Linked DNA regions of Homo sapiens. The protein of the gene in region 1 purifies or fractionates together with the protein of each later gene. This does not show direct contact. Each region holds a gene or a part of one and is shown in the gene's direction. Other genes may lie near its edges. The genes, in order: IQCN, TTC38, ANGEL1, APAF1, AHR, WRAP53 and DRC8.

Region 1 (4,199 bases):
TTTTTTTTGAACTGAGTTTCGCTCAGTCACCCAGGCTGGTGTGCAATGGTATGATCTCAGCTCACTGCAACCTTTGCCTACTGGGTTCAAGAGATTCTCCCGCCTCAGCCTCCTAAGTAGCTGGGATTACAGGCACCTGCCATCATACCTGGCTAATTTTTGTATTTTTAGTAGAGACAGAGTTTCACCATGTTGGCCAGGCTGGTCTTGAACTCCTGACCTCACGTGAGCCACCCACCTCGGCCTCCCAAAGCACTGGGATTACAGGCGTGAGCCACTGCGCCTGGTTTTTTTTTTTTTTTTTTGAGACAGAGTCTCACTCTGTCGCCCAGGCTGGAGTGCAGTTGCGTGATCTCGGCTCACTGCAATCTCCATCTCTCGGGTTCAAGTGATTCTCCTGCTTCAGCCTCTGAAGTAGCTGGGATTACAGGTGCATGCCACTGTGCCTGGCTAAGTTTTGTATTTTTAGTAGAGACGGGGTTTCACCATGTTGGCCAGGCTGTTCTCGAACTCCTGACCTTGTGATCCACCTGCCTTGGCCTCCCGAAGTGCTGGGATGACAGGTGTGAGCCACCATGCCTGGCCTCCCAGGTTACCTTTTATCTTATACTTACTCTTTAATCACAATCTTTTTTTTTTTTTTTTTGAGACAGGGTCTCAGCCAGGCACCGTGGCTTACACTTGTCATCCCAGCTACTTGGGAGACTGAGGCACAAGAATCACTTGAACCTGGGAAGCAGAGGTTGCAGTGAGCCGAGATTGTGACGCTGCACTCCAGCCTGGGCAAAAGGGTGGGACTCTGTTTTAAAAACAAAAAAGAGATAGGGTCTCATTCTGTCGCTCAGGCTCGAGTGCAGTGGTGCCATCGTAGCTTACTGCAGTCTCAACCTCCTGGCCTCAAATGATCCTCCTGTCTCAGCCTCCCGAGTAGCTGGGACTACAGGTGCATGTCACCATGACTGGCTAATTTTTATGTTTTTAGTAGAGACGGGTTTTACCATGTTGCCCAGGCTGGTCTGGAACTCCTGGCCTCAAGTGACCCACCCACCTTGGCCTTCCAAATTGCTGGGGTTACAGACGTGAGCCACTGTGCCCGGCCTATTTTTTTTTTTTTTTTGAGACAGTTTTGCTCTTGTTGCCCCAGATGGAGTACAATGGCACGATCTCAGCTCACTGAAATCTCTGCCTCCCAGGTTCAAGATATTCTCCTGCCTCAGCCTCCTGAGTAGCTGGAATTACAGGCGTCAACCACTATGCCTGGCTAATTTCTTGTATTTTTAGTAGAGACGGGGTTTTACCATGTTGGCCAGGCTGGTCTCGAACTCCTGACCTCAGGTGATCCACCCTCCTCGGCCTCCCAGAGTGCTGGAATTACAGGCGTGAGCCACGCCTGGCCAATTTTTTTTTTTTTTTTTTTTTTTTTTTAAGAGACAGTTCTTGCTTAGTTTCCCAGGCTGGTCTCAAACTTCTGTCCTCAAGTGATCCTCCCATCTTGGCCTCCCAAAGTGCTGGGATTGCAGGCAAGAACCACTGTGCTCAGCCTGGACGCCATTTCTGATGCCTGGATATCATGCCCTTGTATGATTAATTTAAGCCTGTCTCCATTGATAATTTTGGTTTCTTCCAGTTTTTCCTCTGCTAAACAATACAGTGTTAAACATCCTTGAACATACTTCTGTATTCATTTGTAGCAGAACCTCTACCAATCACTGTTTTGGTTATTTCCAGTTGTTTTGTTTGATTTCTAGCTACAAAATAACACTGGAATAAATTTCCTCATCTTTGCACATTTTTTTTTTTTTTTAGAATTTAGCTTTTTTAGAATTTAGAAATTTTAGAATTTAGCATTTTTGCTTTTAACATTTCTTTTTGTGTTGGTCTTGAGCCAGCCCAGGGCAGTGTTGCTGCATATTGCATGGATGAAAGGCTGAAGGCTGCCTCCTCTTGCAGGCTGGCTTCTGAGATTGCACCTTCTTCTCCTGCTACTCCTCCAAATCTATGACCCTTCAAGGTAAGAAGATGGTCTATGGGCAAGGGGTCTGGCTAGTCCAACCTGAAGAGAGGGGCTTCTGCCAAACAAGTGTGCTGTGCTCCAGGCTATGCATCAGGGTGGCTTGACAGTGTCCCAGCTCTCTCTGCATCCTAGTTACTTCTGAAAGCCACAGTCACCACTTTTTCTTCCTTCTTTCCATCCTTCCATATGCCATTTACCTACCCATCCCCTAATCCACCCACCCACCCATCCACCCATCAGTCTACCTCCTGTTGGGTTATCTCTTCACCAGTCTTTCCAGCTCTCTTTAATTTCCCTCCCTCCCTTGCTTCCTTCCTTCTTTCCTTTTATTTGACACGGAGTTTCACTTCTGTTGCCCAGGCTGGAGTGTGATGGCGTGATCTTGGCTCACTGCAACCTCCTCCTCCCGGGTTCAAGCAATGCTCCTGCCTCAGCCTCCCGACTAGCTGGGACTACAGGCTCATGCCACCATACCTGGCTCTTTTTTTTTTTTTTTTTTTTGAGACAGAGTCTTGCTCTGTCACCCAGGCTGGAGTGAGGTGGCGCGATCTCGGCTTACTGCAACCTCTGCCTACCGGGTTCAAACAATTCTCCTGCCTCAGCCTCCTGAGTAGCTGGGATTACAGGCACGAGCCACCATGCCGAGCTAATTTTTGTATTTTCAGTAGAGATGGGGTTTCACCACGTTAGCCAGGCTGGTCTCAAACTCCTGACCTTGTGATCCGCTCACCTCGGCCTCCCAAAGTGCTGGGATTACAGGCATGAGCCACTGTGCCTGGCCTACTTTTCTGTATTTTTAGTAGAGACGGGTTTCACCATGTTGGCCCGGCTGGCCTCGAACTCCTGACCCCAAGCAATCTGCCCACCTTGGCCTCCCAAAGTGCTGGAATGACAGACATGAGCCACCGTGCCGGGCCAATTTGCCTTTAACACTTTATTCATCAGCTTTATTTACCTATTCATCCAAACCTTCATCTGTCTTTCCAACCCATCTACCATTCACTCATCGACTGATTCATCCATTCAGTATCTAGTCCTGTATCTATCTGTCCATCCAACTTCCAATCCACTCACCATTTATCAGTCAAGATGCCCCCCCCACCCAATACCTACCCATTCACAGCTTGGAACCAAGCTCTATGACTGAGATGGGGACACAGAAATGACTCTGTCTTCTAGGATTCACAATCAATGGGGAGAGGCAAATAATCTCCCCCACCACACTTCTCTCTCTCTCTTTTTCAAACACACACACACACACACACACACACACACACACACACACACAGAGGCAAACAGGAAATTTCCAAAACATTGTGATCAGTGCTAAACCCAGGGTACATCCAAGATAAAGTTTGAAAAGCAGGCCGGGCGCGGTGGCTCACACCTGTAATCCCAGCACTTTGGGAGGCTGAGTCAGGTGGATCACCCGAGGTCGGGAGTTCGAGACCAGCCTGGCCAACATGGTGAAACCCCGTCTTTACTAAAAATACAGAAAAGTAGCCAGCCAGGCATGGTGGCGTGCACCTGTAATCCCAGCTACTCGGGAGGCTGAGGCAGGAGAATCGCTTGAACCCAGGAGGCGGAGGTTGTGGTGAGCCAAGATCACAGCATTGCACTCCAGCCTGGGCAACAAGAGCAAAACTCTGTCTCAAAAAAAAAAAAAAAAAGAAAAGAAAAAAGAAAAGCAGGTAAGTGGTCGGGCATTCAGGTGTCATACACTGTGTGCCAAGATGAAGTGGCCGTAGGGTGATGAGAGGTGGATATAAGGATGGCAAAGACCACTTGGGAGAGGGAGGGATGGAAAAAGGGAGGCGGAAGATCGCAACGTGCCAGGAACAAGATCTGGGCCTGGGGGGCCAGTGTCCACCCCAGCCAGGAGACCTCTTGTTTGCAGGACCTGCTACACCCTGACCACCCCCTGCCGCCCCCACAGGCAGAGCTGACCTGTCCGGTAATCAAGGCAATGCAGCCGGCCGCCTAGCTACAGTTCACGAGCCAGTTGTCACCCAGTGGGCGGTGCATCCTCCAGCCCCCGCTCACCCCAGTCTCCTGGACAAAATGGAGAAAGCGCCTCCACAGCCCCAGCACGAGGGCCTCAAGTCCAAGGAGCATCTTCCGCAACAGCCTGCCGAAGGCAAGACGGCGTCCCGCCGCGTCCCACGCCTCCGGGCTGTGGTCGAGA
Region 2 (4,839 bases), on another chromosome or scaffold:
CAAATTCTCTTTTATTGAGGTAAAGTTCACATAAAAGTAACCATTTATGGGAGGCTGAGGTGGGAGGATTGCTGGAGCCAGGAGTTCAAGGCTTCAGTGACTTATCATCCCTATCCCCTCAGTCCCTGGTCACCACCAATCTTCTTTCTGTCTCTATGTTTGCGTATTCTGGACATGCATGTAAATGCACTAATACAAGTGTTACCTTTTGTGTCTGCCTCTTCCTTCAGTATGAATGAACCTTGAAAACGCTGTAGGAAAGGTGTGTCTTCTTTGGAGAACTGTCACCTCAAATTCTTTGCCCACTTTAAATTTGGGCTGTTTGTCATTTCGCTGTTGAGTTGTAAGAATTCTTTTTTTTTGAGACAGAGTCTGGCTCTGTTGCCCAGGTTGGAGTGCAGTGGCACAATCTTGGCTTACTCCAACCTCCACTTCCCGGGTTCAAGCGATTCTCCTGCCTCAGCCACCCAAGTAGTTGGGATTACAGGCATGCACCACCACGCCTGGCTATTTTTGTACTTTTAATAGAGATAAGGTTTCACCATGTTGGCCAGGCTGGTCTTGAACTCCTGACCTCAGGTGATCCACCTGACTCAGCCTCCCAAAGGGCTGGGATTACAGACATGAGCTGCTGTGCCCGGCCAAGATTTCTTTATGTATTCTGGATTCTAGACTCTTACCCAATATATGATTTACAAATGTTTTTTCCCATTGTGTTAATCTTTTCAGTTTCCTGAGTAGTGTCCTTTGATTCAGAAAAGTTTTTAATTTTGACGAAGTCCAACTTATCTATTTTGTTGTTGTTGCTTGTCCTTTTGGTGTTACATCTAAGAATCCATTGCTAAATCCAAGGCCATGAAGATTTACTTCTGTTTTCTTCTAAGAGTTTTATCTTTACAGCTCTCACATAAAACAAATAATACTTCAGTGCAATATTTCAAAAATCAAAACTAATGCAAAAAGTCCATGATGAACAAAATAGCATTTTAAATAAAGGCCAGATCTGCCCGTGCACTTGGTTCTACGCCCTTGATTCGTGCACCCTGGGGCGGGGGCAAATTAAACTAGGGGAGCCCATTGGACTGGGGCTGGTGTGTGGCTGATGGCAGAGTTCAGGCCGGGCCAGACCGGGCCAGTCCAGAGGGAGAAGCCGCTACTGCAGGAGACAGAGCGATTTTTCCGCTGCAAATCCTTGAGAAGGGAGGATGGAGGCGGCGGGACGACCCAGTGAAGCCGGCCCCGAACGCCAAGTGAGTGTGTGCCGTGCGCGCGCGGGTAGCTGCCGACCGCAACGACATAAACTTGAAAGTGACCGCTGTCCCGGAGCTCCCTGCTCCCAAGGGACCCGTCGCGTTGCAGAGTTGTCCGGTCGGGCCTCTGGGGCGGGCCCGGATCCTGGACCAGGGCCAGTCTGTCCGAAACCCACCAGTGAGCGAGCGGGAGAGCGCGGCCGCCCCGCCCCGCCCCTTTCCGCGACCGCCCCGCCCACTCCCAGGAAGGCCCGGGTGCCCAGAGCTCGCGGTGGACTCCGACCCGGCGCAACATGGCCGCAGCCTCGCCTCTGCGCGACTGCCAGGTACACGGAGGCTGCCCCCAACCAGGTCCCCCTCGGGCCCCGGGTCCTGGGGGTGGCCCGGTGCTGGCGGAATAACGGGAGACATGGCCCGGGCGCGGGGCGTGGGGTGAGCCCTGGGCGCACGGGCGCGTCCGCGGCAACGCCTGGAAGGGACCCGAGGCCCTTCTTGTAGAGTCCCCACCGAGGGAAATAAGGGACGCCTGTCAGGGTACTCGGGAGACCCCAAGACCTCCTAAAAAACGTAGCTCACTGGGCATGGCTGGGGACGCAGGGAAGCCCGCAAAGGTAAGGGGCTCCTTGGAACCGGCCCAGGACTGGGAGCCTGAGCCCATTTTACAGATGAGGAAGGTGGAGGTCAGAGGGGCCAGGAGACGTGTGTGTGTTGAAGTTTGAAGGGCTCCTGGAGAGAAGGCACTGCTATTCCCTTCTTGCCGTCTGTAGGCCTGGAAGGATGCGAGGCTCCCGCTCTCCACCACAAGCAACGAAGCCTGCAAGCTGTTCGATGCCACGCTGACCCAGGTATGCCTGCCGAGAGAGGCCGCGGCCCCTTCTGTGGAGGTCTAGGGGAAGGTTTTTTAATTGGGGAAAGCTGTTTTTTTGTTTTGTTTTGTTTTGTTTTGTTTTGTTTTTGAGGCGGAGTCTCGCTCTGTCGCCCAGGCTGGAGTGCAGTGGCGCTATTTCGGCTCACTGCAAGCTTTGCCTCCCGGGTTCACGCCATTCTCGTCCCTCAGCCTCCCGAGTAGCTGGGACTACAGGCGCCCGCCACTGCCCTCGACTAATTTTTTTTGTATTTTTTAGTAGAGACGGGGTTTCACCGTGTTAGCCAGGATGGTCTCGATCTCCTGACCTCGTGATCCGCCCGCCTCGGCCTCCCAAAGTGCTGGGATTACAGGCGTGAGCCACCGCGCCCGGCCATGGGGAAAGCTTTTTAAATTGCGCCATGACCTTAGCAATAGATGGCAGCACATCTGTGCACTTTGTACTGGAGGACGTGGGAGGGTGGGGACATATCTCTGCCCCCCCCCCACAGCGTCCTAAAAGGGCCTCTGCACTCTCCCTTCTTCCCCAGGACTCTGAGTGGTGGGTGGACAGCGGTGGGTGCAGTGGGGATGTTTTTTGAGGATGCTGGCCTCCCCGGGCCTCCCATTGTGGCCTGCTGAGGGTCTGATGCAGGGCTCGGCTGCTTAGGACGTGGGATCCTGTCCTGGGATGAATCTGTGAGTATACTGCCTTCACCTAGGCTGTGCCAAGACCTTCTGCCACATTACCAGTCATTTCTCTACCAATGAAGGGTCCTATAGTTTTAGAACTAGGAGAAGTCTCAGAAGTAAGATCCAACTAGCTTCCTTGACAAGTGGGGAAACTGAGGCTCAGAGTTGAACCTACTTGACTTGAAGGTTGTCCATGAATTACAGGCAGAACCAGGATGAACCTGGGCCTAACTGCACTGATAGAAACCTAAGCTGACCTTGGCGTGGGTGGTGAGGCCCCTGCATACTGACTTCATCCACATAACAGGAGGACTCAGGTAGCTCTTAGAAGCCTACGGGCTGAACAAGAGAGGACTGATGGAATGCTGTGAGCTGCGCCATGGGTGCCTCTCCTGTTCCCAGCCTGCCCTGCCAAGGGACTCTGCTGTGGGCATCTGAGTTGTTTGTTTATTTTGTGTTTGACCTGGCTCACTTGCCCTTCCTGTATCTCGCCGGCCTCTGTAGAGTACTCGATTTGTTTTTTGTTTGAGACGGAGTCTTGCCCTGTCACCCAGGCTGGAGTGCAATGGCGCAGTCTTGACTCACTGCAAACTCTGCCTCTCGGGTTCAAGCGATTGCCCTGCCTCAGCCTCCGAAGTAGCTGGGATTATAGGCACGCACCATCATACCCAGCTGATTTTTTGTATCTTTAGTAGAGACGGGGTTTCACCATGTTGGTCAGGATGGTCACAAACTCCTGACCTTGTGATTCCCCTGCCTTGGCCTCTCAAAGTGCTGGGATTACAGGCGTGAGCCACTGTGCCCGGCCCCTAGTACTCAGTTTGTTACACACCACATCCCCAATCAGTGGCAGCTCATCCTCCCAGCCTGGGTATATTTTGTCCCGTGTATTGGTGTCTCTGTGCTGTCCTGTGTTAGAACTTGGCTTCTTTAAATCTCTGTGCCAACCCTCCTGTATCTTGTCAAAATGCTTGCGTAGCTTATAGTCTCAGCTATTTGGGAGGCTGAGGCAGGGGGATTGCTTGAGCCTGGGCGGTTGAGACTGAAGTGAGCTGTGATTGTGCCACTGTACTCCATCCTGGGCAACAGAGCAAACCCTGTCTTAAAAAAAAAATACACGTACTAATTCTGTGTAGATGTAGGTTAGACAGCTGAAAGGGCATATTTTAAAATCTAATGTGTGATTATAGGTCTAGGACTTTTTTTAAAACAGGCATTTGAGTAAAGGACCAGGTACAAATACAGCAAATTGTTAAAAATGATGATGCGCTGGGCGCGGTGACTCACGCCTGTAATCCCAGCACTTTGGGAGGCTGAGGCAGGTGGATCATCTGAGGTCAGGAGTTCAACACCAGCCTGGCCAACATGGTGAAACCCTGTCTCTACTAAAAATATAAAAAAATTAGCCGGGCATGGTGGCATGGGCCTGTAATCCCAGCTACTCGGGAGGCTGAGGCAGAGGAATTCTTGAACCAGGGAGGTGGAGGTTGTAGTGAGCTGAGATAGTGCCACTGCCTTCCAGCCTGGGTGACAGGGCAAGACTCCATCTCAAAAAAGAAAAAAAAAAAATTAGCCGGGCGCAGTGGTGCACACCTGTAATCCCAGCTACTAAGGAGGGATTCTCCTACCAAGGCAGGAGAATTGCTTGAAACCTGGAGGCAGAGGTTGCAGTGAGCCAAGATCGTGCCATTGCACTCCAGCCTGGGTGACAGGGCAAGATTCTGTCTCAATTAAAAAAAAAATGATAAAATGAGCTTTGGGTAAGTTTTATCTTTCAGCTTTTGTGTCTTTCTAACTCTCTAAAATAAATGTTTTCTGTGAATATTTTTAAAACGAATGAATAAGAAGCAGGAATATTCCTATCGTGACCAACTTCAGGGCTCCTCTTAGGGCAGAAGAAGCCGATGTGGAGCAGGTCACCTGTCAGGAGGAACCTGCCTTTTCTTTCTTTTCTTTTTTCTTTTTTTTCTTTTTTGAGACAGAGTCTCACTCTGTCGCCCAGGCTGGAGTGCAGTGGCGCCTGGGTTCACGCCATTCTCCTGCCTCAGCCTC
Region 3 (4,199 bases), on another chromosome or scaffold:
GGTAAAGCGTTCAGTCTTTCACCATTAAGTATGATATTAGCTGTGAGTTTTTCATAGATTCTCTTTATCAGATTGAGAAAGTTTTCTTCTATTCCTAGTTTTTTGAGTGTTTTTAACTCATGAAAGGGTGTTGGAGTGTGTCAAATGTTTTTCTTCTGTCTGTTTAGATAATCATGTGGCTTTTTTTTAAACTTAAGTATTCTATTGCGACATATCACATTATATGATTTTTCAGATGTTAAACCATGCTTACATTCCTAGGATAAATCTTATTTGGTCATAGTATATAATTTTATATTTTGCTGGATTTGGTTTGCTGATATTTTATTGAGGAATTTTGCATCTGTATTCATAAGGGATATTGGTCTATAGTTTTTGTTGTGACATTTTATCTAGTTTTGATGTCAGAGTAATGCCTCATAGAATGAGTTGAGAAGTGTCTCCTCTTTTTTTTGGAAGTGTTTGTGAAGGATTTGTATGAATTCCTCTTGAAATGTTTGCTGGAATTCACCAGTGAAGCCATTGAGCCTGGTGTTTTCTTTGTGGGATGTTTTAAAATTACAGATTCAATCTCTTTATTTATTATAGGCCTATTCAGATTTTCAGTTTTTTCTTGAGTTATTGTGCATAGTTTGTGTCTTTCTAGGAATTTTTCAATTTTATATAAGTTATCCAATTTGTTGGTATCCAGTTATTTATAGCATTCACTTATAGTTATTTTTTATTTCTAAATGGTTGGTGGTGATGGCCCCTCTTTCATTTCTGATTTTAGTAATTTGAGTATTCTGTTTTCTTGGTCTAGCTAAGGGCTTGTCACTGTTGTTGCTGATCCTTATTATCCTGTTAATGTTGGTAGGATCTGTACTAATGTCCCTTCTTTCTTTCCTGATATTGGTAATTTGTATCTTCCTTTTTTAACATTCGTGTGTATGATATGTATGTGTGTGTGTGCTTATAGATGTATACATATATGTAATATGTATGTATATATACATGTATGCATACATGCATAGACACACACAATGGATGGTATGTAATAGAAAGTCTTTGAAGGAATATACCAGGAATTTGGTAACATTGGTGGCTTCTGGAGAGGGGAATTGAGTGGCAGAGGAGGACAAGTGAGAGGGAAACTTCACTGATACTTTTTGCTACATTTTGATTTTGTACCATGTGACTATATGACTTATTTTTTTTTAATCAAATTAAAGAAAAACAAAGGTGAGGAGCCACAGAAGACAATGTCTGTGTTAGATGCCCTACATCTGCTTTCTGAGGTTCTTGACTTTGGTTTATGGTCATCTTCTCCTCCTCACTGTTTCTCCCTTTCTCCTTCTGGATCCTTCTGAAGCAATCCAGTCAAGGATCTGAGAGGGATTTTAGGGTGAAAGGTTCTGATCCTGCTTCACTGTCTGTGGATGAGAAAATGTTTTTCTCTCTGGTCCTCTGCAGAGCGACCTGCGGGTTGGGCTGAGTCTGTCCTTGAGGAAGATGCATCGGAGCTTGAGCCTGCCTTCTCCAGGTAACCTTCTCCAGTTCTCTTCTGTTTTCAATCCAGCCCTTGCCTAGGTGTAAGAGAGAGATTCCCATTGGTTGTCCTGAGGTTGACTTGGGGGAGCACTTTTTGATAAGCTCTTTTTCCCCTAATATCTGCTAAACTTATAGAGGGTTATGTAGGTATGCAGAAGCCAGAGGTGACCCACCCATGTTACTGCAGGTGAAAAGGCTATGTACTCTTTCCTCAGAGGGTAAAGCCTCACAGAAGAGGCCTGGGCCCCAGACAGGGGTACATTGGGGATACTTTACCAGGTAACAAGCAGATAGTGGGGGATTAGGAGTGTTAGGGAGTCTCAGTACAAATGTGTGTTTCTAGGCTAATTTTAGCTAAGACTGCCAGCCCCTTCTTAGCATGGGGAGGAATTGGCTGAGATTGAGTCATCTGAGATCATCCTTTTAAAAAATCTTCATAAAACCCATAGAAAAAGTGATCTAGGGAAAATTTAGTAATTTTTGTTAACTAATGTTTCCCCCTTCATCCCTGTAGGACTGTAGGTACCATCCAGCACTGCCTCCACCTGACGTCAGTATATACCCACTTCCTGCCCCAGCGTGGCCGCCCAGAGGTCACTACAATGCCATTGGGTCTTGGAATGACAGTAGATTACATCTTCTTCTCAGCTGAGTCCTGTGAGAATGGGAACAGAACTGGTAAGCCTGATGGATCCTGGGTTCCTCCACCCCCAGGTCCCTGGGAACAGCTAATGGTAGGTCAGGCATTTGGTAGCATGTCTTCAGCTGCTGGGATTTAACCAGCAAAGGAGCAGATTTCATACCTCCCTTGCACTGGTCATCCTTATCATTCTCCCCATAGGCCACTTGCCTGCCTTGTCTCTTTTTACCCTTGCAGCATTAAAGAGAGGAGGGTAGGACAGTCACTCCCAATCCCCATTTTAGAGGTAAAAATAGAGATCTAGGAATTGGTTGAGTTTGTTTAATGACAGCCACTGAATGAGGGACTTGGTTAGGTAAGAGACCTTATTTTCTGTCTCCTCTCCCCATACCAGTGGGCACAGTATAGCAATCTCCCAGCCCCATGCCTGTATTGTGTAAAGAATGTTTCTTTTTGGCCAGGCATGTGTATTACTGTTATGGCCAGGCACGTGTATTACTGGTTCACACCGGTAATCCCAGCACTCTGGGAGGCCGAGGTGGGTAGATCACTTGAGGTTAGGAGTGAGACCAGCCTGGCCACATGATGAAACCCCGTCTCTACTAAAAATACAAAAAATTAGCCGGGTGTGGTGACGGTGTCTGTAATCCCAGCTGCTTGGGAGGCTGAGGCAGGAGAATCGCTTGAACTCGGGAGGCAGAGGTTACAGTGAGCCGAGATCGTGCCACTGCACTCCAGCCTGGGCAACAAGCGTAAAACTCCGTCTTAAAAAAAAAAAAAAAAAAAATTAGCCAGGCATGGTGGCGGGTACCTATAATCCCAGCTACTCAGGAGGCTGAGGCAGGAGAATCGCTTGAACCCGGGGGTCAGAGGTTGCAGTGAGCTGAGATTGCGCCACTGCACTCCAGCCTGGACAACGAAGTAAGACTCCATCTAAAAAAAAAAAAAAAAAAATCAGATTTTATATAGAAAAGCTGGATCTCTAGCTTCTCTTGGAAAATCAAAAGATCTTATAATGGTGGGCTCTCCAGCTTGCCCCAGTTCCCCGGAACTCACCTGTCTTTATTCGTTGATGATATTATGGAGTATCTCTGAGAAAATGGGGCCTCCTCAGCCAGATGCTGCAAGAGGAGGTGAGGGGCAGTGGGCAGCCAAGGGGATGCAGCCTGCAGAAGGCGTTCCCAAAGGACTCTGCCACTGCCTGCCCATGCAGTGTGGCTGCGGCTGCTTTTACCCATTGGCTTCTGCTTTGTGCCCCAGATCACAGGCTGTATCGAGATGGAACTCTCAAGCTCCTGGGTCGTCTCTCCCTTCTCTCTGAAGAGATACTCTGGGCTGCCAATGGCTTACCCAACCCCTTCTGCTCTTCAGACCACCTCTGCCTGCTAGCCAGCTTCGGGATGGAAGTCACCGCCCCATGACAGGGCTCCCAGGGGAAGAGAGCTTCTCTTCCAGAAGAGCTCACTGGATCAGAGACTGTGGAAAAATCCCATGCATCTAGAAACTTAGATCCAAGAAACTTACATCCCCTCCCTTCCCCCTCCTCGTTCCCTTTTTCCCACGGTTAGACTTTCTCCAGGCCTGGCTGCGTTCTCTGCCTGTGGTCCTTGCCCCACCCCAGCCTCTTCCTAATCCTGTGCCACACACTCAGTGGCCCTGGGAGAGGCAGAAGGGGGGCTCCCCCTTCCTTCCATGTATCCAGCGCTCCCCCTTGATTTTTAATTACCAGGGTTATGGGAGTTCTTGATTTCATTGGTTATTTGCTTTCAGGCCGTTTCTTGATGTACCTTCTGACCTGACCTTTTCCCTGCCTTCAGGACTTCTGGGCCCAGCCCTCTTGCCAGGCATGCATATGTGAGATATGCATATCATGTATGTGTCCTCTTGGGGTGAGACTTCTGCACAGCCATGCCTGCCTCTGACCAGTCCACTTTTCATGTTGGGGCTGTAGGCCTGGGGCAGGTTCAGAGTCTACCCAAGTACCTATGTATGAGCAGGCAGCAGCAGGGCATGGCCCCATCTCTCCTTT
Region 4 (4,199 bases), on another chromosome or scaffold:
TATTATTCTGTTTTTTATCTCCCATGACACAATGTTTTTAAGATTTATCCTTGTTGCTATGTATACATGTTATTTGTTACACCTGATTGCCACCAACCCATTTTACTGCTCATTACCCTAAGTAAATGGATATGTAGATTGTATCCAACTCTCTGCTGCTGCAGCAAAGCTGGGTTGAACTTCTATGTGAGTAAGAATTTCTTGGGTATTTGTAGCTAGGAGCAAAATTAGTAATTATTTATTTATTTTTGTTTTTTTTTAAAGAGACAGAGTGTCACCCTGTTGCCCAGGCTGAGTGCAGTGGCCATATCATAGCTCACTGCAGCCTCAAACTTTTAGGCTCAAGTGATCCTCCCACCTTAGCCTCCTGAGGAGCTGGGTGCACACGCCACCATGCCTGGCTAATTATTTATTTATGAAACAGGGTCTTGCTTTGTCACCCAGGCTGGAGTGCAGTGGCACAATCTTGGCTCCCTGCAACCTCTGCCTTCTGGGCTCAAGTGATCTTCCCACCTCAGCCTCCGGAGTAGCTGGGACCACAGGTGCATGCTGACACACCCAGCTAATTTTTGTATTTTTTGTAGAGTTGGGGTTTTGTCATGTTACCGAGGTTGGTCTCGAACTCCTGAGCTCAAGCAATTCACCCACCTTGGCCTCCCAAAGTGCTGGAATTGCAGGTGTAAGCCACCATGCTTGGTGTGTTTTTAAACATTTTTTTGTAGAGACAGGTTTTTGCTATCTTGTCCAGGCTGGTCTCAAACTCCTGGGCTCAAGTGATGCTCCCGCCTTGGCCTCCCAAAGTGCTGGGGTTACAGATGAAAGTCACCATGTCCAGCCAAAATTACTAAATGATAGGATATACAAATACCAAATTTGATTCCCCTCCAGTCTGTACATTTCCCCCAGATGAGTATGGGGACTCCGATAATTCTACTTGTGCAGTGACGGTTGGTATGATCCAGCTTTGTAATTTTTGCCAGGCAAACTTCTATAAAGTTGTGTCTTTTACTTTGCATTTCTCTGGTAACTCAAGTTTGAACATTTCTTCATAAGCTTGTTGTTAGCCTTTTGGGTTTCTTTTTTTATGGATTTTGTTTATATTATTTGTCTATTTTCCATTGGGGTTTCCAATTTTTTTTTCTTTTTGCTTTTTAGGAGTTTCTTATATATTCTAGACATTAAACTTTGTTGGTTTTAGACTTTTATTTTATTTTATTTTATTTTTTTTGAGACGGAGTTTCGCTCTTGTTGCCCAGGCTGGAGTGCCATGGCGCGATCTTGGCTCACCACAATCTCTGCTTCCCAGGTTCAAGCGATTGTCCTGCCTCAGCCTTCTGAGTAGCTGGGATTACAGGCACCCACCACCACGCCTGGCTAATTTTGTATTTTTAGTAGAGACGGGGTTTCTCCATGTTGGTCAGGCTGGTCTCGAACTCCCGACCTCAGGTGATCCCCCTGCCTCGCCTCCCAAAGTGCTGGTATTACAGGCGTGAGCCACTGTGCTCAGCTGGTTTTAGACTTTTAAATACCTTATTTTAATTTGCCATCTGATTAATTTTTTTCCTGGGTGTTCTCAGTAGACGAGAACTCTGATGTAGTCAAACTAATCAGTTTTTTTTTTTGTCTTCTAACTTGTGTTTCCTGAGTTTTGTTCAAGTAGTCCTATTACAGTCTTATTATTCATATTTAGTTCTTTATTCTCTGGAGTCTGCCTTTGTATGTCCACTAATTCAAGAATAGGTGCTTTCCCAAAGATAAATTTTAATCTCTGGAGTTCACTTCCATTCTCAAATACAGGAACATTGGATTTTTGACATTTAATTGTATTGCAAAACCTTTTCTTTTAAAAGTACAGATAATATAAGAGATCTAAATTTGATTAAAATTGTGGTTCCTATGGAAATGTTTTCTTTGGGTGGTGATTGGCATAAATTAAAGAATATTAAGTTGTTAACTTTTAGCTGGGTGTGGTGGCTCGTGCCTGTAATCCCAGCACTCTGGGAGGCCGAGGTGGACAGATCATTTGAGGTCAGGAGTTTGAGACCAGCCTGGCCAACATGGTGAAACCCCGTCTCTACTAAAAATACAAAAATTTGCTGGGCGTGGTGGCGCATGCCTGTAATCCCAGCTACCCAGGTGGCTGAGGCATAAGAATCGCTTGAACATGGGAGGCAGAGGTTGCAGCGAGCCAAGATTGCACCACTGCTCTCCATCCTGGGTGACAGAGTGAGATGCCGTCTCAAAAAAAAAAAAAAAAAAAAAAAAAAAAAAAAAAAATATATATATATATATATATATATATATATATAGTTTTTAACTATTTATGTCTATACAGTTTTAAGTAACCCAGTTGTCTTTTGAAATTTCAATGCTTTAATTTTTTCTTATTTGTAGGGAAATAGTAAAGAATTGACGTATCTTTAAATACAGTAGTGACATTTTACATTACTGTATTCGTATGTTGGTTTTTAATCATGGATGCTTTCTTCATAGGCTGTGTTCCTATTTGTTTCTGTCCTTTCCAAGATTTCTTTGTGTTATTAGATTATTAATTGCTACCAGGATAAGCCTCCTGTGAAAGTAGTGTGGAGTTTTCCCTGAATAAAGGCAACTTTTCTCTGAATTAGTTTCTCTGAGTGAATTGTAAATACAGCCTCCTCATGCAAAGCTAAATTGCTCCCTCTTGTGCCCATAGTCAAGATGTTTAGATTCTTTCTGAAATGTGGAATTAATGGTTCAGTTTTTAACTAAATGTTATATTGTGATGGTTAGAGATTTACATATCAGATGGTCATTTGGTCTGTTTGCCTTTTTAAAGCTGGTAGTGTTTTCTCTTTTCTTGCATGTATTTAAATGCCCTAAATTTTTAGTTATACATTTAGGGAAAAAGGCCTTTGACCCTAGGTAATAGGTACATAAATTAAAATATGAAAGAATTTACTAGGTAGCCATATCAGGATGCTTTCTTTACCTTTAATCTTGGGATGATTTTTACAAATTTTATTTTATTTTATTTTATTTTGAGACAGAGCCCCATTCTGATGCCCAGGCTGGGGTGCAATGATCTCAGCTCACTGCAACCTCTGCCTCTTGACAGTCCCCCTGCCTCAGCCTCCCAAGTAGCTGGGACTACAGGTGTGTGCCACCACACCCGGCTAATTTTTGTATTTTTAGTAGAGATGGGGTTTCACCATGTTGGCCAGGTTGGTTTCGAACACCTGACCCAAGTGATCCCCTCGCCTCGGCCTCCCAAAGTTCTGGGATTACAGGTGTGAGCTGCTGTGCCTGGCCGATTTTTACAAATTTTAGGTAGTACAAATTTAAAAAAATGGAAACTTAAGGCAACAGATAGTTTATTTGTCTGTTTTTGTTTGTTTAAATATTTTTAAAGTAGTATTTTCTTTTTTTTTTTTTTTTTTTAATTTATTTTTTTATTGATAATTCTTGGGTGTTTCTCACAGAGGGGGATTTGGCAGGGTCATGGGACAATAGTGGAGGGAAGGTCAGCAGATAAACAAGTGAACAAAGGTCTCTGGTTTTCCTAGGCAGAGGACCCTGCGGCCTTCCGCAGTGTTTGTGTCCCTGATTACTTGAGATCAGGGATTGGTGATGACTCTTAACGAGCATGCTGCCTTCAAGCATCTGTTTAACAAAGCACATCTTGCACCGCCCTTAATCCATTTAACCCTGAGTGGACACAGCACATGTTTCAGAGAGCACAGGGTTGGGGGTAAGGTCACAGATCAACAGGATCCCAAGGCAGAAGAATTTTTCTTAGTGCAGAACAAAATGAAAAGTCTCCCATGTCTACTTCTTTCTACACAGACACGGCAACCATCCGATTTCTCAATCTTTTCCCCACCTTTCCCGCCTTTCTATTCCATAAAGCCGCCATTGTCATCCTGGCCCGTTCTCAATGAGCTGTTGGGCACACCTCCCAGACGGGGTGGTGGCCGGGCAGAGGGGCTCCTCACTTCCCAGTAGGGGCGGCCGGGCAGAGGCGCCCCTCACCTCCCGGACGGGGCGGCCGGCCGGGCAGGGGGCTGACCCCCCCACCTCCCTCCCGGACGGGGCGGCTGGCCGGGCAGAGGGGCTCCTCACTTCCCAGTAGGGGCGGCCGTAGTATTTTCATTTAAAAAGAAAAAGAAATAAAAGTTCTCCTTACTTGTTCCTTTTTGCTTTCTCCTAAATTCTTAATC
Region 5 (4,199 bases), on another chromosome or scaffold:
TATGGCTGTACACTGTGTTTAAGTGTTATTACAGAAGAGTCAAAAGTTAAAAATGCAAAAGTTTATGAAGTAAAAATGTTACAGTAAACTGTGCTGGGATTACAGGCATAAGCCACTGCACCTGGCCAAAAGGAAAATATTTTTTATAAATTCAGCGTAGCCTAAGTGTATAGTGTTTATAAACTCTATAGTAGTGTACGGTAATGTCTCAGGCCTTCACATTCACTCACCACTCACTCACTGACTAAACCAAAGCAACTTTCAGTCCTGCCTACCTTGTTTACAATAAGTGCTCTTATACAGGTATACCATTTTTTGTCTTTTATACTGTATTTTTACTGTATATTTTCTATGTTTAGATACACAAATACTTACCATCATGTTACAATTGCTTTAAGTATTCAGTACGATAGCATGCTGTACAGGTTTGTAGCCTAGGAACAAAAGGCTATACTGTATAGCTTAGATGCGTAGTAAGCTATACCATCTAGGTTTGTGAACCTACCCTCTGATGTTCACAGGATAATGAAATTGCCTAAGGACACATTTCACAGAACATGCCCCTTTTGTTAAATGACATGTGAGTGTATGTCTGAGGTGGAATATCTGTGTGCAGGAGGGCCTTTTCCTCCTTGTGCTGCTATTATTTTGATGTCAGAACCATCCCTTGGACTGGTTGATATTGTTTTAAGCAATTAAATATATCATGTTCATGTTTAAGTGCCTTTGTTTTCCCTGTCTTCTAAATTTCTTCCATATCTTTACTCAGTAGGGCTCTGCATTCTTTATATGTTTTCATGATGATTCATTTTAGTGTCTTAATAAAATTATATTTTGCCTCTATAGAAAAGATTATGAACTATGCAGTATGCTATGAGCTGTGATATAGTTCATGTATGCTTGAAAATGAATGTTTACTTTAGGACTTTATCACCATTCAGGATATATTGATTGCCTGGTGTGCAAGGAGCTGTGTGAGGTGAAAATGATAGGGTAATGGCAAGCTTGGAAAATGATATAGGTTTTCATGTTATGACCATTAGGAACAAGGAGTGGTTCACTTATCCCTTTAGAATATTTTTCATATTACTCTTTGAGATAGATTTAATGGGCGTCCCATGGAGAGAGGAGTGAAGGAAACTAACAGTTCTCAGCTTCAGGAATATTTATGGAATTATCAAGAACCCTAGAGGCAGCCATAATGGAGCCTTTTAAAAAGGCACTATTTTATATTGTTAATTTTAATGAACTTTTTTGTTGTTGTTGCTTTTTTAAGGCAATGAATTTCCAAGGGAAGTTAAAGTATCTTCATGGACAGAAAAAGAAAGGGAAAGATGGATCAATACTTCCACCTCAGTTGGCTTTGTTTGCGATAGCTACTCCACTTCAGCCACCATCCATACTTGAAATCCGGACCAAAAATTTTATCTTTAGAACCAAACACAAACTAGACTTCACACCTATTGGTTGTGATGCCAAGTAAGTGAGACTTTTTCACTTTTATTTTATTGGATGTACATTATGTTTCAGTAAGTCTCTCTTAGCATGTAAAACATACAGTGTATGTAATATTGTTTATTATTAGATTGGCTATTATCGTACATTCTTCCAGTGTAGCCTTTTACAGTAAAATAATTTAATCAGGCTCACAAATCATCTTTTTAATTTTTGCAATACTTGTCTCAAATGATGATGTTCTTATATATTAGTAAGGTTTATTCTTCTGATGACATTTATGTTGGTTTGTTTTACATTTTTAAATGGCACAAATGTTATTTGATTTCTAGCCCCAGAAGTTTTAGTAACTTTCAGAAAATTGTGAGCAGGAGTCTGATATTAAACATTTATATCATATCAAACATATCAGTGCTTTTCTCCTTTCTAATGTGGGAATGCAGAGAGGTAATTAGAAAAACCTTCTTCCCTAAAAATAGATTATAAAAACATTCCAGATTTTTATTAAAGATGTTCTGTTACCCATACATCTGCTCTATTAGATTCATTTTTAGCATACTAATTTCCATGGATTTATTCAGGAAAAGAAAATAGGCTGAAACTGAAATTTGCAATCATAAGCAAAGAAGATCAGTTTACATGGATGTGTTTAATTTCACATCTACTTATGTGAAATTCTAAATGTGAACTAAAACATATTGCAGAAACTAGCGTAAAACCAATGAATTTATCTTGGTTATTTCATTTATGTTAAATCTTAATCCATTCTTATTTTACCTTTTTTTATTTTAAACAGAGGAAGAATTGTTTTAGGATATACTGAAGCAGAGCTGTGCACGAGAGGCTCAGGTTATCAGTTTATTCATGCAGCTGATATGCTTTATTGTGCCGAGTCCCATATCCGAAGTAAGTTGTAGTTCCTTATGAACATGTCAGAAGAAAACGGCATATACTGTTGTACATGTTTCAAATTCTTACGTAATGTAAAGTGTTTAAGTAAAGTATATGGATAAACTTCTACTTAGTAACATATCATTATGATTAACCAGGGTTACACTCTTTGTTCATTAACTTGTCTACACCTGCCATGTAGAAATATTGTTGTTTAGTTATTAAAAAATGACCATTTTGGCCCATGAAGTTTTGCTTGGGAATTTTTTAATTACATCGTTATCAATTCATAAATCTATGTTAATATTGTAACAATAATAGTGTTAATAATTCTAGTTTAAAATTATAAAGTATTAGGCTGTAGGAAAATATTCCCTATTTAAAATGAAAATAATTTTTTCCCCAACTTATGTTCTCTCTATACTTTCCTGTGTTACTAGAATTGTTTGGTACATAATCTTCCCTTTAACATTTAAAATAATAAATTTAAAACAACTCTGAAAAACTATTTCCATGCCTTTTATTATTTTTTGTTTAAAATTTATTGTCTTTGGGGATAAAGGAAATACATCCAGAACTATGTCACAAGAGCTTTGTTTTAGGAATAATCTTTACTATATTGATTTGGGGGTTTGATAATTTAATTTTTTAATTTTATTTTAGTGATTAAGACTGGAGAAAGTGGCATGATAGTTTTCCGGCTTCTTACAAAAAACAACCGATGGACTTGGGTCCAGTCTAATGCACGCCTGCTTTATAAAAATGGAAGACCAGATTATATCATTGTAACTCAGAGACCACTAACGTAAGCACAAATAATGTTTCCTGTTTTAACAGTTTTGTTTTCATAAGTCCTCTTATGTGAAAGCATAAAAATAATTCAAGCAGACTTTAGTCTGTAAATAAAAATTGAAAAGTTTAATTCATCTAGAAAGAAGAGCACAGGTGAGAGACATTGAGAAGATAGAATTGACGAACTTGATTGAGAGCTACATGTGCAGAGCTATAGAAAGAATAATAAAACTCTAGGGTTTTATCTTGGGCATATGAAAGACACATGAAAAGCTAGTGTCATTGGTAAAAAAGAAGAAAAATATAACAATGCTTTATTTAGAATATATTCTCTAAACCCAGCAGTGATTTTAAGAGTTTCTTACACATGCTGCAGATGAGTCCTTTATCAAATATTTGTATTGCAAATGTTTCCTCCCACTCTGGAGAATTGATTTTTGTCTGTAGCTTGAGGTAAGGATTGATTCCCCCCAGCCATTATACGTATACCCAATTGACCAGTAACATTGAAAAGATGATTTACCGAGAAGGTCATTGTTTCCCGGCTGCGCTGTATTTTGATCAGGGGATTTTGTCTGTGGTTCTCTGTCTGGATTGTGTTGTTCTATTAATAGCTCCATTAGTGCAGTTGTCTATTTTGTCTAGCATTACACTGTCTTAGTTATTCTATCTTTATTATATATTTCTATGTCAGAGTGTGTCATTTTGTTTGTTTTGCCTTTTTTGTTCTCCTTCAAGATTGCCTTGGTTCTTCTTTGCCCTCTATAATTCCATATACATTTTAGAAAGCAGTTGTCTGAAAATCTGTTGAGATTTTGAGTGCAATTACCTTGAAACTGTAGATCATTTGGGGAGAATTAACATCTTTTTAATACTGAATCTTTGAGCCCATGAACATGATGAATGTATGTATGTGTATAAGTACCCATGGAAGTACATGAGTATGTGTGTACCATATGTATATGAGTGCATGGGTATGTGTGTACCTCTACAAATTTGTCACTTCTCCCTTGATCAATGTTTCTAGAAGGCACTTTTTTTAATTAGATTTTATTAGTCTT
Region 6 (3,462 bases), on another chromosome or scaffold:
ATTTATGCTGTAATGAAATACCATTTCACCACCTTCAAATTGAGAAAAATGTAAAAGTCTGGCAATACCAAGAAGATAAAGAACAATAGACACTTTTTTTTTTTTTTGGAGACAGGATCTTGTTCTGTTGCCCAGGCTGGAGTGCAGTGGTGCGAACATGGCACACTGTAGCCTCAAACTCCTGGGGTCAAGCAGTCCTCCTGCCTCACTCTCCCAAACAGGTGGGACTACAAGTATGCCAATATGCCTGACTAATTTTTTAATTTTTTGTAAAACTGGGGTCTTGCTATATTGCCCAGGCTAGAATAGAGACTCTTATACACTGCTGGTGGGAGAGGACATTGGGACAAGTGCTTTGGGAAAGAAATTGACATTATAGTATCTTACAAAGTTTGCAAAGTGCATAGCGTAGAGACCAGTAATTTTACTCTTCAGCAGAAACTGTAGAGAAACCCTTCTACATGTGTACAGAATGTTAAAGCACACTAGCCAAAAAACAGAAAAACATCAGTGATTCTAAATAGAAGAAGGGTAGATCAGTTTGAATATATTCATGAGTAGAGTACTATACACCAGTGAAAATGCATGAATTAGAGCAAAATGTGTTTCCATGGTTAAAGCTTGCTATCACAGAGGGATGTATATGATATAATACCATTACTGTTAAGTCTAGGCCGGGCATGGTGGCTCATGCTTGTAATCCCAGTGCATTGAAAGGCTGAGGTGGCTGGATTGCTTGAGGCCAGGAGTTTTAGACCAGCGTGAGCAACACAGACCCCTGTTTCTACAAAAAAATAATTTTAAAGATTAGCCGGGCAGGCTGGGCGTGGTGTCTCATGCCTGTAATCCCAGCACTTGGGAGACTGAGGTGGGTGGATCACGAGGTCAGGAGTTCAAGACCAGCCTGGCCAAGATGGTGAAACCCCGTCTCTACTAAAAATACAAAAAAATTAGCCGGGCGTGATAGCAGGCGCCTGTAATCGTAGCTACTCAGGAGGCTGAGGCAGAGAATTGCTTGAGTCTGGGAGGCAGAGGTTGCAGTGAGCCAAGATTGTGCCACTGCATTCCAGCCTGGGCGACAGAGCGAGACTCCGTCAAAAATAAATAAATAAATAAATAAATAAATAAATAAGCCAGGTATGGTGGCTTATGCTTATATTCCCAGTTACTAGGGAGGCTGAGGCCAGGGGATTGTTTGCTTGAGCCCAGGAGTTTGAGGTTTCAGTGAGATGATTGCGCCACTGTGCTCCAGCCTAGGCAACAGAGTAAGACCCTGTCTCTAAGAAAAGAAAAAATTAAGTCTAAAGACCTGCAAGACAACGTTAGATACTGTTTTTTTTCCCATATGAATATACTCCTAGGCTGGGCGCAGTGGCTCACACCTGTAATCCCAGCACTTTGGGAGGCTGAGGCAGAAAGATCACTTGAGGCCAAGAGTTCGAGACCAGCCTGGCCAACGTGGCGAAACCCTGTCTATACTAAAAATACAAAAAATTAGCTGAGCATGGAGGTGAACTCCTGCAATCCCAGCTACTCGGGAGGCTGAGACACAAGAATTGCTTGAACCTGGGAGGTGGAGGTTGCAGTGAACTGAGATCGTGCCACTGCACTCAGCCTGGGTGACAGAGTGAGACTCTGCCTTTAAAATTAAAAAAAAAAAATTTATATATATATATATATTTATATATATATATATATTTATATATATATATATATATATATATTTATATATATATATATATATTTATATATATATATATATTCCTAAGGAAATGTATGACAGTGATAAATTCAAGATAGTGTTTACCTCTGAGGGAGAGTTTCTGTTAGGAAAGGGGTTTAAACATATCTTTTTGTTCAGCTGGATGGAGGGGTCACAGGGCTGTTTTTTTAATAAGATACTTTGTATGTTTGAACTGTTTAATTTTTTTTCTTTATTTTTGTAAGGAGGTTTTTTTGTTTCCATTTTTGTATTTTTGAGACAGTGTTTCTGTTGCCCAGGCTGGAGTGCAGTGGCAATGATCTCAGCTCACTGTGGTCTCTATCTCCTGGGCTCAAGCAATTCTCATGCCTCAGCCTCCCTAGTAGCTGGGACTACAGGCATGCACTACCATGCCCAGCTAATTTTTTTTTCTTGTAGAGACAGTGTTTCACCATATTGCCCAGGCTGGTCTTGAACTCCTGGGCTCAAGTGATCTGCCTGCCTCAGCCTCCCTAAGTGCTGGGATTACAGGTGTGAGCCACTGTGCTCAGCCGATAATTTTTTTCTTTTCTTTTTCTTTTTTTTTTGGGGGGCACTGTCTCTCTGTCACCTAGGGTGGAGTGCAGTGGTGCGATCTCAGCTCACTGCAACCTTTGTCTCCTGGGTTCAAGGGATTCTCCTGCCTCAGCCTCCTGAGTATCTGGGATTACAGGTGTCCACCACCACGCCTGGCAAATTTTTGTACTAATATTTTTTTAAAGGATCAAATGGCACCTAGCATGTACTCAGTAAGTATTTGAATAATTGGTTGGTTCTTTGTCTCTGGGTTGAGGTATTATTATTTGTTTCTTCCTCTCTAAGTGTTTATAAAGAAAAAGTATAAGGCCCGGCACGGTGGCTCACACCTGTAATCCCAGCACTTTTGGAGGCTGAGGCGGGTGGATCACCTGAGGTCAGAAGTTTGAGACCAGCCTGGCCAACATCATGGTGAAACCCTGTCTCTATTAAAAAAAAAAACAAAAACAAAATTAGCCAGGCATGGTGGTGCATGCTCTGTCTCAAAATAATAAAAAAAAAAAAGTATGAATCTATATGGCTTTTGGTGGCTAAATTTGACATTAAAGTCTGAGCTCACCCTTGAACATTGAGACAGAGTCTGTGCTCCATATATACACCCCATCTGCCACAACACTGCTAGAGGCACGCGCCTCAGACTCCTTTTCCCTCCGAGTGACTCAGCCATTCCCCCGTCTCTGTATAGGTCCCTGTCCTTCGAATGGTGGAAGGTGATACCATCTATGATTACTGCTGGTATTCTCTGATGTCCTCAGCCCAGCCAGACACCTCCTAGTAAGTAATGTTTGCCTCCCTGCTCGCCGCCCCACCACCCAGTTTCAAGCAGGGCCTCTTGGGAGAGTCAAGGGCTGCCAGGGGTCTTTGGAGGAGGAAGGCTTGGCATGCTTATCAGAGGGGCTGGTCAGTTGGCTTCCTCCCCTTCCTTTTTTTTTTTTTAGATTGAGTCTCCCTCTGTCACCCAGGCTGGAGGGCGGTGATGCAGTCTCAGCTCACTGCAACCTCCGCCTCCCAGGTTGAAGTGATTCTCCTGCCTCAGCCTCCTGAGTAGCTGGGATTACAGGTGTGCACCACCACACCCAGCTAATTGTGTATTTTTCATAGAGATGGGGTTTCACCACGTTGGCCAGGCTGGTCTCGAACTGACCTCAGGTGATCCACCTGCCTTGGCCTCCTGAAGTGCTTGG
Region 7 (4,199 bases), on another chromosome or scaffold:
TCAAGCAGTGTGCTCTTCCAAAACATGCATCTATGAGACCGTCACTGATTTCCCATTGTTCTCAGGCTAGCAACCTTATCACTGTCATGGACAAGAAGGCCCTGCCGTCGGGCCCCTGTCTCTCTTTCTAGCCTCATCTTGAAGCCTTCTCCCTGCTCCTTGTACTCCAGCCTCCTAGCCGCCAATGTGTCAGCAGAGAGTCTTCGCGTATTCAGTTTCCTCTAGGTGACTGTCTCTCCCCTGCTGTCTCTGTCTCATTACCTTCTACTCATACTCTCTAAATCAGCTGGAGTGTTATTTCCTCATGGATGACTTCCCTGGTCTCCTGGTCTAAGAAGTGTTCTTTATTTTTTTATTTTTATTTTATTTTATTATTTTATTTATTTTTTATTTTTTTATTTATCTATATATATATATTTTTTGAGACGGAGTCTCGCTCTGTCACGCAGGCTGGAATGCAGTGGCCTGATCTCGGCTCACTGCAAGCTCTGCCTCCTGGGTTCACGTGATTCTCCTGCCTCAGCCTCCTGAGTAGCTGGGACTACAGGCGCCCACCACCATGCCTGGCTAATTTTTTGTAGTTTTAGTAGAGACAGGGTTTCACCGTGTTAGCCAGGATGGTCTCCATCTGCTGACCTCGTGATCCACCCACCTCGGCCTCCCAAAGTTCTGGGATTACAGGCGTGAGCCATCGCACCCGGCAATTTTTTTATTTTTTATTTTTTTATTGAGATGGAGTCTCGCTCTGTTGCCCATACTGGAGTACAGTGGTGCGATCTCGGCTCACTGCAACCTCCATCTCCCGGGTTCAAGTGGTTCTCCTGCTTCAGCCTCCCGTGTAGCTTGGATTACAGGTGTGCGCCACTACGCCCATATAATTTTTGTATTTTTAGTAGAGACGGGGTTTCACCATGTTGGCCAAGCTGATCTTGAACTCCTGACCTCAAGTAATCTGCCTGCCTTGGCCTCCTCAAGTGCTGGGATTACAGGCGTGAGCCACCACGCCCGGCCGAGTGTTCTTTATTGGCTGTTCTTACAGACCCATGCTCCTTCCCCTCACTGTACTTACATCAGTTCACAGTGTCTTTGGTTGCTGTTTCTTGATTAATGTCTGTCTCCCTGATCAGAGTATCAGCTGTGCTCCAGTTGAATGATGAAGGTAAATCTTAAAAAGATAAAGTAAAGGACCATCTCTGTGAGCAGGGGTCACGCCCAAGTGTGCTCACCATCCAGAGTCTCTAGCACTTGGCACAGTGCTTGGAACAACTAGTTGCTGAATACATTTGTTGAATGACTAAATGGCTATTTACTTATTGAATGTTTAGGTAGAGGAAGAAGAACCCACTGGATACATTCGATTCGAAAAATTTCTTCCGGTGATGACAGAAATACTACTAGAAAGAAAGTAAGTAAGTAAATGCAATTGTTAAGGCAAAGTAATGGTCAGAATTATGAATCCATTCATTTCAGGACGCTTGGCTTTTTCACTTTGTGTGTTATACTCAAGCAGTGTGTCCTAAGGTGGCCTCCCTCTAACCTTTCAAGCTACTTCTGAACTGGCAGTTGGTACCTGCTTAGAAATATCAACCACACTAGTGTTATCCTAAGCAAAGCATAATTAGAGGGTAAATAAGCTATAAAGATCGTAAATCAACATTCTTAGTATCTTCTGTTTTGAATTATCAATGATAAATAAGAATCCTAATATTTTTCTAGCAAAAATATAGCATTAGCTTACCATAGTTGGTTCATCATAGAAGTCTTGTGCCCAGATAAATTGATGTCCAAAAAGCTAATAGATAACCTCAAACATGTCAGTGATTTTGCACTAAATATTTCCTGTGGGGCTGAGGTATTTTCAACTTTCATATCCAGAAATCCAAAAAGATTTCAATGAGGCAAGTATTATCATCCCAGTATGTTAGCAGCTTTTATTTTATTTTATTTTATTTTATTTTATTTTTGAGATGGACTTTCGCTTTTGTCACCCAGGCTGGAATGCAGTGGCACCATCTTGGCTCACTGCAACCTCCACCTCCTGGGTTCAAGCAATTCTCCTGCCTCAGCCTCCCGAGTAGCTGGGATTACAGGCACGTGCATGCCACCATGCCTGGCTAATTTTTGTATTTTTAGTAGAGACAGAGTTTCACTATGTTGGCCAGGCTGGTCTCGAACTCCTGACCTCAGATGATCTGCCCACCTCAGCCTCCCAAAGTGCTGGGATTACAGGCATGAGCCACCATACCCAGCCCTATTTTGTTTTATGTGGTCATTTATTACGGGGATCCCCAACCACCAGGCCAGGTACTGGTGCCAGTCCCTGGCCTGTTAGGACCCCTGGGCCACACAGCAGGAGGTGAGCAGCAAGAGAGTGAGCATTACTGCCCGAACTCCGCCTCCTGTCTGAGAAGCATTGGCATTAGATTATCATAGGAATGCGAACCCTATTGTGAACTGTGCGTGTTAGGGATCTAAGTTGCATGCTCCTTATGAGAATCTAATGCCTGATGATCTGAGGTGGAGCAGTTTCATCCCCAAACCATCCCTCCCCTCCCCTGGTCTGTGGAAGAATTGTCTTCCATGAAACTGGTCCCTGGTGCCAAAAGGGTTGGAGACTGCTGATTTATTATGTAAAGACTGCGGTAAATACCACGGCATTTACTCATTTTATTGCATAATTATAGATACAGACCAATTCCAGAAGATGTCCTTCTTCGAGCTTTTGAGGTATGTAAACTCCAGCTTATATGCATATACATATATATAAATACATTTATTTACATACACACATATATGAAAAATTTATCATGTAGAACTTATTCACCAAATGAAAAATATAATATCTATCTTTTCTTTTCCCCTAGGTTTTAGATTCAGCTAAACGTGGGTTTCTTACTAAGGACGAGCTGATCAAGTATATGACTGAAGAAGGTAAGTGTGATTTATTACTTATCACAATGACTTATGTGAGGAATTAATAATTTGTTAACAGTTATGCGAAAGTTATAGGGGATACTTTAAAATCAGTCATTCTGGTGAAAGTTATTTACTGTTCCTGCTATTTTGGCTTGGGGATGGTTTCTGTTCTGTGGGGGTTAAGAGGACAAAGAGTAGGGAAAGGGGAGATGGGTTGTTGTCTCGTAGAATTTTGTGAAGCACAGTGATTACTTCTATAATTTCAGGCATTGCATTCAGAGCATTTCCAGAATAAAAGATATGCCATCTGGAAAACATGAACTATCGATCACTGTAAATGAAGGCCTCTTCCTAGATTGAAGATTTGAATAAAGAATATAAAAATTCCGCCCCCCCCCCGGCGCCCCGGCTTTTTTTTTTTTGAGACGGATCCGGTCTTGCTCTGTCACCCAGGCTGGAGTGCAGTGGCGCGATCTTAGCTCACTGCAACCTCCGCCTCCTGGGTTCAAGTGATTCTCCTGCCTCAGCCTCCCGAGTAGCTGGGATTACAGGCACAGGCCACTGCGCCCAGCTAATTTTTTGTATTTTTAGTAGAGATGGGTTTCACCATGTTGGCCAGGCTGGTCTCGAACTTCTGACCTCAGGTGATCCACCCATCTTGGCTTCCCACAGTGCTGGTAAAAATTCCCTTTTAAAGAGCTTTTCTGTCAGTGAAGTTACAGATAATGTAGCCTCAATTGAATACTGAGGTCATTTTTAACACTAAAAATGTCCTTTTTTAATGTTAATTGAACCATATATATTTGTTTTGAACATGGCCCATCATACATATATGCATACACACACATAAAACCTGCACACTTATATATATATGCCAACATATTTCCTTTAGGAATTCTCTCTGCTAGGCTGATGTGTAAATTTGTTTACACTGAAGGTCAGTAGCCTGATGGACAGTCTCCTGAAACCATCCTCATATTGGTCCCCTTGCCTTCTCCCATACAAAGCTAGAGCTCTCTGGTTCACAGACTGGGTCCTGAATGACTCAGAGTTGCTAATCACTTGAGGCAGAATGAAAAGCGCAAGTGATTTTGAGTAGGGAAGACTAAGACTGCATCTACACGCACAACTGGTTTGACCATTCCAGCTTCATCCACCTTAAGGCGGAATACAGAGAGTGAGGGTCAGAATGGCAAGGCCGTCACAGCTGCCACCCAAGAACTCTGACGCCATTGTTAAAATTACCTTCGGGATTAATTCTGATGGGGATGTTACGACTTTCA

Evidence for each region.
Region 2: the proteins of IQCN (region 1) and TTC38 purify together in Homo sapiens (affinity purification with mass spectrometry; 2 studies listed by BioGRID and IntAct, with this or other methods). This does not show direct contact.
Region 3: the proteins of IQCN (region 1) and ANGEL1 purify together in Homo sapiens (affinity purification with mass spectrometry; 2 studies listed by BioGRID and IntAct, with this or other methods). This does not show direct contact.
Region 4: the proteins of IQCN (region 1) and APAF1 purify together in Homo sapiens (affinity purification with mass spectrometry; 2 studies listed by BioGRID and IntAct, with this or other methods). This does not show direct contact.
Region 5: the proteins of IQCN (region 1) and AHR purify together in Homo sapiens (affinity purification with mass spectrometry; 2 studies listed by BioGRID and IntAct, with this or other methods). This does not show direct contact.
Region 6: the proteins of IQCN (region 1) and WRAP53 purify together in Homo sapiens (affinity purification with mass spectrometry; 2 studies listed by BioGRID and IntAct, with this or other methods). This does not show direct contact.
Region 7: the proteins of IQCN (region 1) and DRC8 purify together in Homo sapiens (affinity purification with mass spectrometry; 2 studies listed by BioGRID and IntAct, with this or other methods). This does not show direct contact.

The regions. Positions count from the first base shown.
Region 1 is NC_000019.10:18,267,278-18,271,476, reverse strand, and holds part of IQCN (IQ domain-containing protein N), read left to right. Parts: intron 1-1,885; exon of another isoform or gene 1,886-1,889; 5' UTR 1,890-1,998; coding exon 1,999-2,011; intron 2,012-3,911; exon of another isoform or gene 3,912-3,950; coding exon 3,951-4,199. UniProt on the Homo sapiens protein: Essential for spermiogenesis and fertilization. May be required for manchette assembly in elongating spermatids.
Region 2 is NC_000022.11:46,266,497-46,271,335, forward strand, and holds the start of TTC38 (tetratricopeptide repeat protein 38), read left to right. Parts: upstream 1-1,511; 5' UTR 1,512-1,543; coding exon 1,544-1,576; intron 1,577-2,017; coding exon 2,018-2,095; intron 2,096-2,645; exon of another isoform or gene 2,646-2,793; intron 2,794-4,839.
Region 3 is NC_000014.9:76,788,620-76,792,818, reverse strand, and holds part of ANGEL1 (protein angel homolog 1), read left to right. Parts: intron 1-1,452; coding exon 1,453-1,522; intron 1,523-2,044; coding exon 2,045-2,208; intron 2,209-3,430; coding exon 3,431-3,591; 3' UTR 3,592-4,199.
Region 4 is NC_000012.12:98,651,416-98,655,614, forward strand, and holds part of APAF1 (apoptotic protease-activating factor 1), read left to right. Parts: intron 1-4,199. UniProt on the Homo sapiens protein: Oligomeric Apaf-1 mediates the cytochrome c-dependent autocatalytic activation of pro-caspase-9 (Apaf-3), leading to the activation of caspase-3 and apoptosis. This activation requires ATP. Isoform 6 is less effective in inducing apoptosis.
Region 5 is NC_000007.14:17,332,636-17,336,834, forward strand, and holds part of AHR (aryl hydrocarbon receptor), read left to right. Parts: intron 1-1,276; coding exon 1,277-1,479; intron 1,480-2,251; coding exon 2,252-2,361; intron 2,362-3,009; coding exon 3,010-3,151; intron 3,152-4,199. UniProt on the Homo sapiens protein: Ligand-activated transcription factor that enables cells to adapt to changing conditions by sensing compounds from the environment, diet, microbiome and cellular metabolism, and which plays important roles in development, immunity and cancer.
Region 6 is NC_000017.11:7,697,778-7,701,239, forward strand, and holds part of WRAP53 (telomerase Cajal body protein 1), read left to right. Parts: intron 1-2,963; coding exon 2,964-3,052; intron 3,053-3,462. UniProt on the Homo sapiens protein: RNA chaperone that plays a key role in telomere maintenance and RNA localization to Cajal bodies. Specifically recognizes and binds the Cajal body box (CAB box) present in both small Cajal body RNAs (scaRNAs) and telomerase RNA template component (TERC).
Region 7 is NC_000001.11:245,080,758-245,084,956, forward strand, and holds part of DRC8 (dynein regulatory complex protein 8), read left to right. Parts: intron 1-1,325; coding exon 1,326-1,405; exon of another isoform or gene 1,406-1,408; intron 1,409-2,684; coding exon 2,685-2,727; intron 2,728-2,864; coding exon 2,865-2,931; intron 2,932-3,182; coding exon of another isoform or gene 3,183-3,211; exon of another isoform or gene 3,212-4,199. UniProt on the Homo sapiens protein: Component of the nexin-dynein regulatory complex (N-DRC), a key regulator of ciliary/flagellar motility which maintains the alignment and integrity of the distal axoneme and regulates microtubule sliding in motile axonemes.